Linked DNA regions of Homo sapiens. The protein of the gene in region 1 interacts with the protein of each later gene in a pairwise test. Each region holds a gene or a part of one and is shown on either strand. Other genes may lie near its edges.

Evidence for each region. Proteins that work in one complex are often made in the same cells at the same time.
Region 2: the proteins of HTN1 (region 1) and MUC7 interact in a two-hybrid assay, tested with the Homo sapiens proteins (one study listed by IntAct).

What each region holds. Positions count from the first base shown.
Region 1 is NC_000004.12:70,048,840-70,052,599, reverse strand, and holds the start of HTN1 (histatin-1 isoform 1 precursor), read right to left. Parts: upstream 2,163-3,760; 5' UTR 2,105-2,162; intron 1-2,104.
Region 2 is NC_000004.12:70,478,537-70,482,196, reverse strand, and holds part of MUC7 (mucin-7 precursor), read right to left. Parts: intron 1,399-3,660; coding exon 319-1,398; 3' UTR 1-318. UniProt on the Homo sapiens protein: May function in a protective capacity by promoting the clearance of bacteria in the oral cavity and aiding in mastication, speech, and swallowing. Binds P.aeruginosa pili.

The DNA.
Region 1 (3,760 bases):
GACATCTTAAACAGACCAAGAGGATGGGAGTAAGAAGGTAATGAAGAAAGGCAAGCTTGAGTTGGATTATATGGAATGAGTAAAGGGTGGTGTTGGGAGCCTATAAAGAAATAAAACAGAGAGGAAAGCATGTTAAAAATGCAAACAGTTCAACACATAGGGAGGACAAAACTGGAGAAAAGATGACCACTTAGGTTGTTGTGACACTACAGGGGACTTATATAATGACATTAAGAATGCTAATTAAGGTACAGTGTAAAGAGATATTAGGAAAGTAGAATGAAAAGCAATGGAGACTGGCTTTATAATAAAGTCAGTGACTATGAGCCAGAGTTCTATTACAGAATCCACAGATGGTGTAACCCTGAGATTAGAACATTAGTGATATTGGGTAGCGAAAAATAAAATGAAGAGAATTCACAGGGAAAATGATTGTATCTACTTTGAGAAGTTGAACTGGTGAAGATTATTCAATATTTCAAATAATATTATTCAACAAAGTTAGCCTCATCTGGGACTCTGATATGCTTTTATAATTATGTATATGCAAGTGTATCCAGTTCCTTTGCAGATATAAAAAAGTATAGCAGGTTACTTATTTCTAAATTACAAACGTAAATAAAAGCATTTCCATTGGAAAATACAATTACCACAAGACTTACAGTTACATGGCATTTTTGGCTGTTAATTGCAGTTATAAAGTAATTCATTAATAGGTAATTTAAAAATTTTTTTCTAATCTCTCTTTCCTGTCATTTGTGATATAACATTACAGTAACATTTTTCATCTAATTATAATAAAATGTCCTGCTCTTAAACAGCCCTACATCTCTATCATGAAAAGCAGAACCCAAGATTTATGGCATTTACCATATTATTTATTCGTTTATTTTGCTTCACTCAATTAAATGGAAACTTCTACTATAGGACTAACTATAAAAATTATGTATTTTGAAGTTTTTCTATTACCTAATATATAAATCCTACTACAACTCTTTTTATGATACAAAAGGCATGAGAATTTTACTGTTGTTAATGATTGTCAATTCTGTTGCAAGTACAAAATAAAAAAGGGTTCTAAGAAATTGGTCTTCTTTTACTAACACATAAACTGATAGATAAACGAACATAGATAATCAATATACAATTAATGGTTATGAAAAACATATTTCCCAAGTAACACATCAATAAAAATTTGGAACAGTAAACTCTTTCTTTTCTGCCATAACACAAATGAATGAAAATGAGTTAAACAAATTAGTAAGATTGAGATGACTAACTCTTATACAGTATATGCTTTGCATTATAACAGCACTGTTTTAAATGATGGAAAGGTCAATAAAAAAGTAATAAAATAGTTTCCTATTAAGAAGAAAGTAAATTTTTAAAAATAAACCTTTATAATAATATATTTACCAAGAGAGAATTTATCAGTATCTTCTTGTAAAATTTGAACTCCTGGTTTAAGTTAAATGTAGAATTAATAATTAAGAAAGTAGATATTAGGTATCTAGACAAGGAAATAAAAAGAGTTAATTGAGGTCCCACCATCAGAGAGGATGTAATACATTGCCATATTCCACATAATTTACTTTGCGTGATGATTGCTGGTGTTAATTCATAGGAATTGAGATCTGGAAGTCATCTTCAGATCCCGAGTACAAAATTGTACACATTACAGCATCAGGGCAAATAACTAATGCATGCGGGGCTTAAAACCTAGATGATGGGTTGATAGGTGCAGCAAACCACCATGGCACACGTTTACCAATGCAACAAATCTGCATGTCCTGCACACGTATCCCAGAACTTAAAGTAAAATAAGAAAGTAAAATAAAATAAAATAAAATGAATTTGTGTGTGAGTTTTTAAAGGAAATATTTATTAGATAAATCATCTATGCTAATTTGAACAGTCCTATTAGAAATTATGGTATTCTATAGGTAATATACAAAAATGTAAATTATTTATTTAGGCAAATACGCAATTCAAGTAAACTAGATTTAAATAGATAATATACATTTTCATAAGTGGGTTACTATTGATTTTAGCAAACAAAAGCTTATGCTAATATATAATATTAGATTGTACTTGAACATATTACCTTTTACTCAAGAGGAGAGTCAAGAAGTCAGTGAAGCTGAAGTGAAGTCTCAAGAGATGTCCTTTTCTATATGGCTGATGTATTTAAACACGTTGAAATCTCCCTTTTGTTTTTCTAAATAGCATCAATTAGGAGATCATATGATTGAGACGGAAAGTAATGCCCAAAATCTGTCTCTACAAATTCTAAAAATAAACTTAACCAGGTGATTTTACAATAGATCATTGTGAAGACAAAGCAACCGGAAAGCGAATGGACCCATCACATGCTAATCCCAGTGTTAGTCTAGCCCTGAGTGAGTCAGACAACGGAAAAGCACGCTGGAGGAAACCAGGCATAGAAATGATTGCAGTGATAAAGATGTTTCTGTAGAATACCATCTACTACTTTTCAACAAATATATGTCCAAGATGGAACAACGCTATGTCAAAAATAATACTTACCATGTTATCAAAATTTTACACATTCTCTAGTAAATAGTGATAATTGGCATAATAAAATTGGAGTCATTCTATACTTCAAAAGTTTTCCTACAAATCATTATTTATCTTGTATTTTTACCTTTACATTGACTTTGAGTGTTTTAAGTAATAAAGTGAATGTAAACATTTGCCAAAATTCAATCATCTTTTGGATATCATATGATAAAAACATTCTCATATTTAATGTCAAAAGATTCTAGGTGCTTGGTCACATATCTCTCACATAAAACTGATTTCTTATGTTTAGAAATTTGAATTTACTTCCCTGGAGTTTTCTGAGGTTCATATATATTTATAGAGGCCATTTGTTGAAATAACTATATTAGACAGAAAGAGAAAAACAGAATTTTAATTTAATTCATAGGCAAACATGTATAAGCATTCACCTACTCTCTACCGGTTGGAGAATTTGATGTGCTAAGAACTGAGTATTAAAAACTCTTTTCTAAAGTTCAGATAAGTTATACAGCCCAGTCCATTGTTCCTCAGAGGGTGCCACATGCGACCATCATGATCAGCATCAGCTAGTAGCTGTTGAAATGCAGATTCTTATTCTACTTTTCCAAACTTACTGAGTCAGAATCTTGTGGTGTACACCTGGAACCGGAATTTTAAGAACATGTCCAGGAAACTCTTTGTGTACTTTAAAGATAGAAAAACTACTTAAGAGATTTATAAACGCATGGTCTTTAGCTTGATCCCACTAATTAGAAATTGTGTTTTAAATTTGTGTCTGATTCAGGGAAGGAAACAACGCCCACCAGGGCCTGGTGGTGGGGAAGGGAGGGAGAGCATCAGGGCAAATAGCTAATGCATGTGGGGCTTAAAACCTAGATGATGGGTTGATAGGTGCAGCAAACCACCATGGCACACGTTTACCAATGCAACAAATCTGCATGTTCTGCACACGTATCCCAGAACTTAAAGTAAAATAGGAAAGTAAAATAAAATAAAATAAAATGAATTTGTGTGTGAGTTTTTAAAGGAAATATTTCTTAGATAAATCATCTATGCTAATTTGAACAGTCCTATTAGAAATTATGGTATTCTATAGGTAATATACAAAAATGTAAATTATTTATTTAGGCAAATATGTAATTCAAGTATATTAGATTTAAATTGTTCTTTTGGCATGAAATTTCTAAGCATCAGAGATATAAGGTCTCTTCTCTGG
Region 2 (3,660 bases), 430 kb from region 1:
AGGGAAAAGTAAATGGTTGATGGCCCATACAATATTCTCTCTTTATCTAAGGACTTTCTTTGCCCTCAGTAGGCTATCTCTGTAGGATCCAAAGAGTTATTTTGAACCCCAGACCTGCATCTGGCTTGTGGGATAGAGGCATTTTGTCTTGTTAATAGGTCTTGTGGTGGTGAATAATTAGATTGAAAGATTAATGATAGTGCTTTAAATCTGAGTAATATAATTTCATGTTGGGATTGGTGCTAAAAGAAAGGTGGTAGTTCTGCACTCATGAATCACATCTTGTAAATGACAGAACACTTTACAACATACAATATACTATTGCTCCACCATGTCGTCAATAATTCTGTTTAGTAGATTCTTCATATATAAAAGAAATCGAGAAATTTTATTTTGGCCAGGAGCTGAAGTTGGTTGTTTAGTAGTAGTAGTTTGAGTAGTGACCGAAGTAGTAGTCTGGTGTGTGGGTGCAGCTGAAGTTTCAGAAGTGTCAGGTGCAAGAGTAGTTGGGGAAGAATTAGGTGTGGTAATTGGGGCAGCTGTGGTCTCTTGTGGAGCTGGGGAAGACGGTGGAGCTGGTGTAGTTGCAGAAGGTGTGGGTGGGGCAGCTGTGGTCTCTGGTGGAGCTGAGGCGGATGATGGGTCTAGGGTAGTTGCAGAAGGTGTGGGTGGGACAGCTGTGGTCTCTGGTGGAGCTGAGGAAGATAGTGGAGCTGGTGTAGTTGCAGAAGGTGTGGGTGGGGCAGCTGTGGTCTCTGGTGGAGCTGAGGAAGATGGTGGAGCTGGTGTAGTTGCAGGAGGTGTGGGTGGGGCAGCTGTGGTCTCTGGTGGAGCTGAGGAAGATGGTGGAGCTTGTGTAGTTGCAGAAGGTGTGGGTGGGGCAGCTGTGGTCTCTGGTGGAGCTGAGGAAGATGGTGGAGCTGGTGTAGTTGCAGAAGGTGTGGGTGGGGCAGCTGTGGTGTCTTGTGGAGCTGGGGAATTCACTGGTGCTAATGTAGCTACAGAAGAGCTTGTGTTAACATTTTCTCTTGAAGATATGGTGGTGGCATTCTGGGGAAGAAAAGTCACATTTGGAAGGGTAGTAATTTTGGTGGAAGCTGATGGGAAAGTCACAGATGGAATTTGGGTTGTAGCCACTAAGGTAGGGTTGACCACACTGCTATTTTTATCTGGATGTTTAGGTGGCTGGTGAGGATTTGGGAATTTGGGGGGGTTATTAGGTGAAGGTGGAAGCTTAGGCCTACAGCGTTTGTGCAGACATTTATAGGACTTTCTAATGAACGGCTTCTGGTGAGCTAGCAGTCCAGGATAATGTGGTAATTCAAAGTGAGATTTGGGTGATTGGTGATGATGCCTTCTGTGACGTAGTTCATGATCCCTTTCTCGACCTTCACTGAACTGCAGAAAAGAAAGAAAATGTAAGAAATGAAAAAAGTATCCATTTATCAATCAGGTGATCACTGCTGACCATGAGATGAGCGGTATTTGTGGAATGCTGGGATTAGAAACCAGAGTACATTATTGAGTCAAGTGATTATCTTCCTAATTTCACCAAGTTTCAAGAAAGAATTGCTACTAGAGAGTTTTCTTTTGTCAAATGTCTACTCTCTAGATAGCTGGGATGAATATATTCCTGTGGGTTCTAGCTTGAATGCTTAGCTGGATACGAACTTTTGTGCTTACAGTTCCTCTCTTCTTCCTCTGGTGGAAAATGGTCAAGTTACTGCCTGAGGTCCCATCACAAAAGCTTCCTGCTTGCTCAGCCTGTTCACAAAACTTTAGTCAAAGACATTCAACTGAGATCCAGGAGCCCTTTCTAGATTACACCCCTCATATCTACCATCATCAAAATACGAAACAGCCAAACAACAACAAAGCCCCAACAAACAAAATATCCCACCCCGGCTTCATGTTCTCCATATTTCAGGAAACAGTTTTTAGCCTTTATAAATTGGAGAAACAACTTTGGTCATTACCTTTTAACTTTATTGTTTAAAAAATTAGAATTATAGAATTCATGATTCGGGGGTTCATGAGTCATCTGATTTTTAGAGAAAATTTGCATGTTTATGCATTTTGTCTGGATAGAGCACCAATGGTTTTCATGATTTCTGAAAGGTGTTTACATCTGAAAAGAACACTGATCCAGTCCAACTGTACATCTGATACTTGATCTTTTATCAATACACCTGCTGAAAGGCTTTCTAGTCTATGCATCTAACCTCTTCTGATTAGGAACTCACTACTGTAATTCCTAAGGCCGCCTGGTAGAGAGTTCTTGACACTGAATGTAGGTTTGTTTTTTGGGATTTTCATTCTTAACTGAGTAGAATTTTCTTCATGAAGATTTCCATCCTTTGGTCCTAATTTTGTTTTGGCAGATTTACAGAAGATCCAGAAGTCTTTCAAAATTTGAAAATAACTTCTATGCCATGTGGGTCATCATTTTGCAAGATATTTTTATTTCCTTTAGCCATTGCTGACATTATTTGAGTTAGAGTACCATCACTGTTTCAGTTTCTTATCTGTAAACATACTTCATGCCTTTTATATCCCTCTTCCCTGTATTCAATCTCATACTACATTTTTTAGTGATCAGTTATATTAAATTGGAGAAAAGAAATATAACAGGATAAATGAGAACATCCCAAACAAGGATAGGTTACGTTTTCTTCCTAATGATGTTCACAGAAGCCCTTTTTAGATGACCAAATGGGTAAATCATTCCAGTCGCAAGTTATAAAGCTTTCTTTGGACACAAAGTTTAGTGCAGATGAAGTGACAACTTCTGAGAGACTAGCTGAGTTGTTTAACTAAGATAACTTCCTCAGAGACTAATATATCCAACCTCAAAAATAGCTTCTAGGTACTGGGCTTTCAGAGGTGAATGAAACAGGGACCATCGTGAGGCTCATGTGATTGAGGGAATGAACCACATAACTATTTCAAAGCAAAGAGGTCATAGAATTAGATTTTGGATCTGGAATTTAATTTAATCCGAATCATTTCATAAATGAATAAACTGAGATCCAGGCATATTAAGTGACTTGCCCAAAGTCATTCAATTATTCAATGCCAGACATAGGACAGACTAAAACCTCCACTGCTGGTCTGTTGCAGTGTGTTTCAAATATGTTCCTCTAAGATCTGGACATTCTCCACAACATCCATCAATACAAGAAAGTATTATTTGTTTAGAAAATTAAATTGTCCAGGAAATTTTAATTCACAACTGAGAACAACCAATAGCTAACATAATGGCTTCTGATACTCACATGACTTTGGTATTTTTCCATAAATCTCTCTTAAAAGGGCATAGGTTTTCAGAATCGGTAACACTGACTCCAGGAATCTCTGAGGAGATCCTTTCCATTACAGGGGTAGTTGTTTTCTCATATAAAATAGAACAGGTCATATTGTTCAAACAGATCTTTCCCTGGAGATTGAATATGCAATCCACATAATTAAGGACCTGCTCTGACTGAAGCAGGATTGAGGGCCTCACATTCCATGATCTCGGTCTTTCCCTTTCCAGATGGTCTCTGAGGATGTTGCAAAGAATGTCCAGATCTTATAGGAACATGTATGAAACATGCTGCAACAGACCAGCAGTGGAGGTTTGGCTCTGTCCTGTGTCTGCCACTGAATAGCTGAGTGACT